Linked DNA regions of Homo sapiens. The protein of the gene in region 1 purifies or fractionates together with the protein of each later gene. This does not show direct contact. Each region holds a gene or a part of one and is shown on either strand. Other genes may lie near its edges.

What was found.
Region 2: the proteins of ADCK5 (region 1) and FABP1 purify together in Homo sapiens (co-immunoprecipitation; one large-scale study listed by IntAct). This does not show direct contact.

What each region holds. Positions count from the first base shown.
Region 1 is NC_000008.11:144,376,797-144,380,815, forward strand, and holds part of ADCK5 (uncharacterized aarF domain-containing protein kinase 5), read left to right. Parts: intron 1-600; exon of another isoform or gene 601-694; intron 695-2,590; coding exon 2,591-2,694; intron 2,695-4,019. UniProt on the Homo sapiens protein: The function of this protein is not yet clear. It is not known if it has protein kinase activity and what type of substrate it would phosphorylate (Ser, Thr or Tyr).
Region 2 is NC_000002.12:88,122,482-88,125,062, reverse strand, and holds the end of FABP1 (fatty acid-binding protein, liver), read left to right. Parts: intron 1-476; coding exon 477-569; intron 570-1,958; coding exon 1,959-2,009; 3' UTR 2,010-2,081; downstream 2,082-2,581.

The DNA.
Region 1 (4,019 bases):
CTAGGGTCAGGAGGTGCAGGCTGGGTAGGCAGCAGGTGGATGGCCCGCCTACGAGTCGCTGCCCGGCTGCCTTGGGTTTTCCTTGTGAATCAGCACTTGCTGCATGTGACCTCGCCAAGCAGGGGTTTCTGTCAACCCGCCCTCTAGGGATAAGAGGTCATGGACTTTTCCCTTTGGCTTTCATGTTGTTTGGAGTCCTCAAAATTTTCTCCAGGGCTCTGAGCTCTGGCCAAAAACCAGCTGGCAAGTCAGTTCCTTACTAGGTCCAGTGTTGAGGACCATGTTAGCGTCTGTGCCACGGGGCATGACTGGCTATGCACAGTCCTTTCCACCCAAACCGTGACTTGTGTGAAGAGCTCTCAGTTGGGGAATTTGGGGAGTTGTGAGACCTCATCCTAGGTCAAGTGTGATTGGGAGACCAAGGTTTCCAGTGAGAGCTGTGGTGTTTTCTTTCTTTTTTTTAATAATACTGTAAGTTCTATGTGGTGTTTTCATAGTCACAAAAATAAAGCAGGGCCATGTGTCAAGAGTCTCATGGTGGGGCTTCTTTATTTATGTATTTATTTTTCTAAATGGAGTCCCATTCTGTTGCCCAGGCTGGAGTGCAGTGTCTCAATCTTGGCTCACTGCAATCTCCGCCTACCAAGATCAAGCGATTCTCCTGTCTCAGCCTCCCAACTACCTGGGATTACAGGTATGCGCCATCACACCTGGCTACTTTTTTTGTATTTCTAGTAGAGACAGGGTTTCGCCATGTTGGCCAGGATGGTCTTAATCTCCTGACCTCATGATCCACCCGCTTTGGCCTCCAAAAGTGCTGGGATTACGGGCGTGAGCCACCGCGCCTGACCCTTGGGACTTCTTTACGTGTGTCCTGCTAGCTGCAGCATGTCCTCTTCTCCTCCAAGTAAAAGATGTACAGGGTCCCTGTCTGTGGGGTCTCAGTAAGTTGTAAGTTTCTTCATCTGCTTTCAGAACAGTGACCTACGTAGGCCACTCCTCCCATCCGGGCGTCCACCTTCAAGGTTGGCGTCTGCTGTATGATTCCATGGCTGGGCACTGTTGCCACTTCCTTCGGAGATGAGGACTGCTTTCCTCTGGCCACTGGTCAGTGGTCTCAGCAGCAGGAAATAGTAAAATAGTAAATGACAGGTCAGGGTGCTGCCAAGAGAGTGCAGGGGCAGGGATGGGGTGGGTCCCATCCCAGATGAGCCAGATGGTGATGCCATCTCTTCCTGCAGAGACTGAGGGGACATTCAGAGACGGGGTATGTTTGATGCCCTGTCAGCATCTGAGGCATCAGCCCTGGTTAAGCTGCGTTTAGCCTTCTCTCCTATGATACTTTGACACTCAGCCTTGCTCCCAGGAGGTAGGATAGTGTTTCCATTACGGAATCAAAGATGGGAACCTGGCTTCCTGGCATGATCCCAGCGGTGCTGGCAGTCTTTGCTGACTGACTTGGTGATGTGGTTTGGCTTTGTGTCCCCACCCAAAGCTCATCTGAGTCGCGATTCCCAGTGTTGGAGGAGGGGCCTGGTGGGAGGTGATCTGGTCATGGGGGCAGATTCCCCCTTGCTGTTGTGGTGATAGTGAGTGAGTTCTCAGATCTGATGGTTTAAAAGTGTGTGTGGCACTTTCCCCTTTGCCCTCTCGCTTGCTCTCTCTCTCTCTCCGCCCCCCCCACTGCTTCACCCATACTGTGCTTGCTTCCCATTTGCCTTCTGCCATGACTGTAAGTTTCCTGAGGCCTCTCAGTGGTGCTTCCTGGACAGCCTGCAGAACTGTGAGTCAGTTAAACCCAGGCCAGGTGCGGTGGCTTACACCTGTAATACCAGCACTTTGGGAGGCTGAGGAGGGCAGATCACTTGAGGTCAGGAGTTCTAGACCAGCCTGGCCAACATGGTGAAACTCCGTCTCTACTAAAATACAAAAATTAGCTGGATGTGGTGGCGTATGCTTGTAGTCCCAGCTACTCGGGGGGCTGGGGCAAGAGAATCACTTGAACTCGGGAGGCGGAGATTGTAGTGAGCCGAGATTGTGCCATTGCACTCCAGCCTGGGCGACAGAGTGAGACTCCATCTCAGAAAAACAAACAAACCTATTTTCTTCATAAATTACCCAGTCTTGCTTGGGTAGTTCTTTTTTTTTTTTTCTTGAGATGGAGTTTCGCTCTGTTGCCCAGGCTGGAGTGTAGTGGCGCGATTTCAGCTCACTGCAACCTCTGCCTCCCGGGTTCAAGCGATTCTCCTGCCTCAGCCTCCCGAGTAGCTGGGATTACGTACATGCACCACTATGCCCAACTAATTTTGTATTTTTAGTAGAGACGGGGTTTCACCATGTTGATCAGGCTGGTCTCAAACTCCTGGCCTCAGATGATCCACCCGCCTCGGCCTCCTAAAGTTCTGGGATTAAAGGTGTGAGCCCCTGTGCCCGGCCTGGGTAGTTCTTTAGAGCAGTGTGAGAATGGACTCACACATTAGGTTTAGAGTTAGGCTGCCTCAGACTCCAGCACATGTAAGTGCTGGTACTGGTTGAGGGCAGGGGCGTGTCCTGGCCTCGTTCGACCCCACACAATTTCCTCTCTTTGCAGGTGCAGCTCTGTCATTTCCACTCTGCTCTGCTGCACAGCAGGCAGAAGCCCTGGCCGTCCCCTGCTGTGTTCTTCAGGAGAAACGTCAGGGGCCTTCCTCCAAGGTAACGAGTCCTCCACGGGCATGCGCCTCTCACCCAGGCAGGCATGGATGGCGTCTGTGTGCATGCAGAGGTGGCAGTCGAGGGCCCAAGGCTGGACCTTCTCCTGTACCCACAACCAAGGCAGGATATGTTTGCTCCTCAGTGCGGTGCACTGGGACCAAAGACCCCCAGGGACCCATGGGACCGTGCTCAGGGGTGGGCACACCCTGATCACAGCATTTAGAGCAGACAGCTAGCAAATCGGGAAGGGTGCACATGGAGCGCCTGCTCTGAAGAGCAAACCGGGTCATTCAGAGCATGGAGGAGGGCGGGGTGACTATAGGTGGGAGTCACACAAGAGGAAGAGCAGCAAGAAGAGATGTGGAGGGATGGGTCTGAGCAGAAGGAAAGGCCAGACAATGTCCTGAGGCCAGCAAGTCCGGACCACAGTGCGCAGATGGACGGTGGCAAGGCAGGAAGGCCGTGGAGGGTAGATGTGGCCAGGCAGGGCAGGCAGGGTGAGCTGTCCAAGCGCCACTGGCTCAGTGAACCTGGCAGGGGTCTCCTTCTCCCGAGAGCTCTGCAGTAGGACAACCTGTGTCCCTGGGACAGATGCGGCCAGCTACAGAAACAGATGGGTGCTCAGGCGCCTGCGGCTGGGTGCAGAAACAGATGTGCACTCAGACACCTGCTGCACTCAGGATTATGGGCCGGGTGTAGAAACAGATGTGTGCTCAGGCACCTGCTGCACTAAGGATTATGGGCCGGGTGTAGAAACAGATGTGTGCTCAGGCACCTCCCGCAGTCAGAATTATGGGCCGGGTGTAGAAACAGATGTGTGCTCAGGCACCTCCCGCAGTCAGAATTATGGGCCAGGTGTAGAAACAGATGTGTGCTCAGGCACCTGCCGCAGTCAGGATTATGGGCCGGGTGTAGAAACAGATGTGTGCTCAGGCACCTGCTGCACTCAGGATTATGGGCTGGGTGTAGAAACAGATGTGTGCTCAGGCACCTGCTGCACTCAGGATTATGGGCTGGGTGTAGAAACAGATGTGTGCTCAGGCGCCTGCTGCACTCAGGATTATGGGCTGGGTGTAGAAACAGATGTGTGCTCAGGCGCCTGCTGCACTCAGGATTATGGGCTGGGTGTAGAAACAGATGTGTGCTCAGGCGCCTGCTGCACTCAGGATTATGGGCTGGGTGTAGAAACAGATGTGTGCTCAGGCACCTGCCGCACTAAGGATTATGGGCTGGGTGTAGAAACAGATGTGTGCTCAGGCACCTGCCCCACTCAGGATTATGGGCTGGGTGTAGAAGCAGATGTGTGCTCAGGCACCTGCCCCACT
Region 2 (2,581 bases), on another chromosome or scaffold:
TGAAGTGAAAGGACTGTTTGAGCCTAGGAGTTCAAGACCAGCCTGGGCAACATAGCAAGACCTCATCTCAATTAAAAAAAAAAAAAAAAGAAGAATACATACCAAAGCAAAATATGTATTCTCTACTGGTCAATATTTGAATTTTGCCACTACCTCCCTCCATTAGCTTGGGAGAATTGAGATTTTACTTGATTTGATTTTAGCATTTGTATTTGGGGCCACTTAGGTGTTCCATGCTCATTTCTAGATCACATGCCATGAATTAAAGTTCTGACAAAAGAAGTCGTGACATTTTATTTAGTTCTTAAATGCACCTCACTTCTATTTGGAGCCAGAGAACTAGAGGCTTGGGATCATAGGAACCAGAGCATTTTGGTTGTTATGAGCTGAGACCTGTGCAAAGGAAGCAACTTCATTAGCAAGGCTCTTGCCCCCCACCACCCCTTCCTCACAGGTCACCTCTCTGTTCCCTGCAGACAGTGGTTCAGTTGGAAGGTGACAATAAACTGGTGACAACTTTCAAAAACATCAAGTCTGTGACCGAACTCAACGGCGACATAATCACCAATGTAAGTTGGTGGTGCTCTGAGCGTGTGGCTCCCAGTGCTTGAGGGGAGAGGGGAGGTGAAGCATGGGGAGCGGCTCACATACCCTAATGCCACCCCTCCACCCTCCAACCCCCAAACTTCTTTCCTGTGGTCAGTATCTGCCAGCACTTACTGAGGATCCATCATGTCCCAGGCAGTTTACACACATTATCACTAATCCTTTCTGCTCAGCGCAACCAACCAGCCACAGAGGCCTCCACCTGCCCTGCATGCCCAGGGTGCTTCATAAATGCCTTTGCCCATTTAGCGTTTATAAAGAGAATCCCATTCATGGTCATATTATGGCAGCTTACAAGCCTGGCACAGTCCAGTTATGCAGTCAGCCTTGGTGCCTGGCTGCCAGCCACATCCTGTACCCTATTTGGGGGTGAATGGTGCAGTGTTTCTCCTGCAGGTATGTCCCCCTGACTCTTCTTTGCCCCCAGAATATGCTTTAGGGAGTCACAGACAACAGAACACTGCCTCAGGGCGCTGTCATCACTCTATTCAAATGGAAAAATTCTTAAACTAGAGAGAGTGTGAGCATCAACCACCCAATGTGCAGTTTCCACCTCCGCCCCAGCACATTCCCAGGAGAGCAGGGGAGCAGGAGATGAGCTATCCTGCAGTAAGTCCTGGCCAACGCCCTTTGATAGGTTCCATCTCACCTAATCCTCCTGTCTCCTTCGAGGGAGGCTGGATGAGGGATTCAATAGACAGGTTGACCTGTCCAAGTCATCAGCTAATAAATGTTAAATCCAGGGCTCAAACCCATCAAGCAGCAACTATTGCATTGCTGCTGAAACTGAGGGGCTCCTTTTCACCCTGATGACATGGTATGTCATTCCAGCAGTCTTATTCAAGAGAACTGGCAGGGGTGGAGGAAACATCCTTAAAAACTCAAAAGCTGATGCATCCACTGTTTTTATATGCTTCACAGCTATAGGAGGACAATTATGCACTACCCACTGCCTTCCAGGCTGTGTGCCTAGTTGTGTCCATGTACATGTATCCTTGGTGCTCAACATGTATTTGGTGCATAGTAGGTACTCAATGAAATTTTGAGAAATTAGATTGGGCTGGTTTGGATGGTCTTGCTATAACAGTCATTGATGTAGAAAAGAATTCAGTCAAAGGCAGGAGGACTTTCCAGGTGAGGAGGAGAAGTGACAAAGACTTGGCATAGGATTTTGGAAAACATTGCCAACCTTTCCTCCGGTCCTACAGGAAACCAGACGAATTTTTGAATTGTTTCATATGCCAACATATTTGGTGCTGTTTTTTAAGCTTAATTTTGTTTTTTATGCTTAATTTTGTTTTTTACAATACAACATCAGATGAACACTTCATAATTTCTTTTCTGGCTTTCAGACCATGACATTGGGTGACATTGTCTTCAAGAGAATCAGCAAGAGAATTTAAACAAGTCTGCATTTCATATTATTTTAGTGTGTAAAATTAATGTAATAAAGTGAACTTTGTTTTAAAAAAAAATGTCTTCTCAATGCCTTTTCATTGATGGTGCTATTGCTCACCATATTCTCGTAAATATACTTTCGTAAATGTTGATAATCCACATGATCCACACTACCAGGTCAAATCCGAAGAGTAATTCCCTGAACACAAAACCCATGCTGCACACCCAGGTGTTCTGCCAGGAAAGCCAGGTGTGGCTAGATCTGCAGGAAGGCCCTGGAATGCCCTTTCCCAGTCAGGCACACGGGCAAGGAGCTGGAGCCAGAGGATGTGCAGTGGGCTGGCCTTGAGGGTGCTCTCTGTGGGGACAGGGAGCAGGAAGACTGGGCAGAAAAGGAGAGCTATACCCACAAGCACAGCCACAGTACCAGCCCACCAGCAGACAGGTGCAGAAAGGTCGACACTGACCCGCCCAATAAACTTTTCCTCCTGTGGGAGGCTGAGCAAAGGGCTTAGTGAGAGGCGCCAGAAGTGGACAGAGGAGGCTCAGTGGAAGTTCCCTCCATGCTATGGGCAGG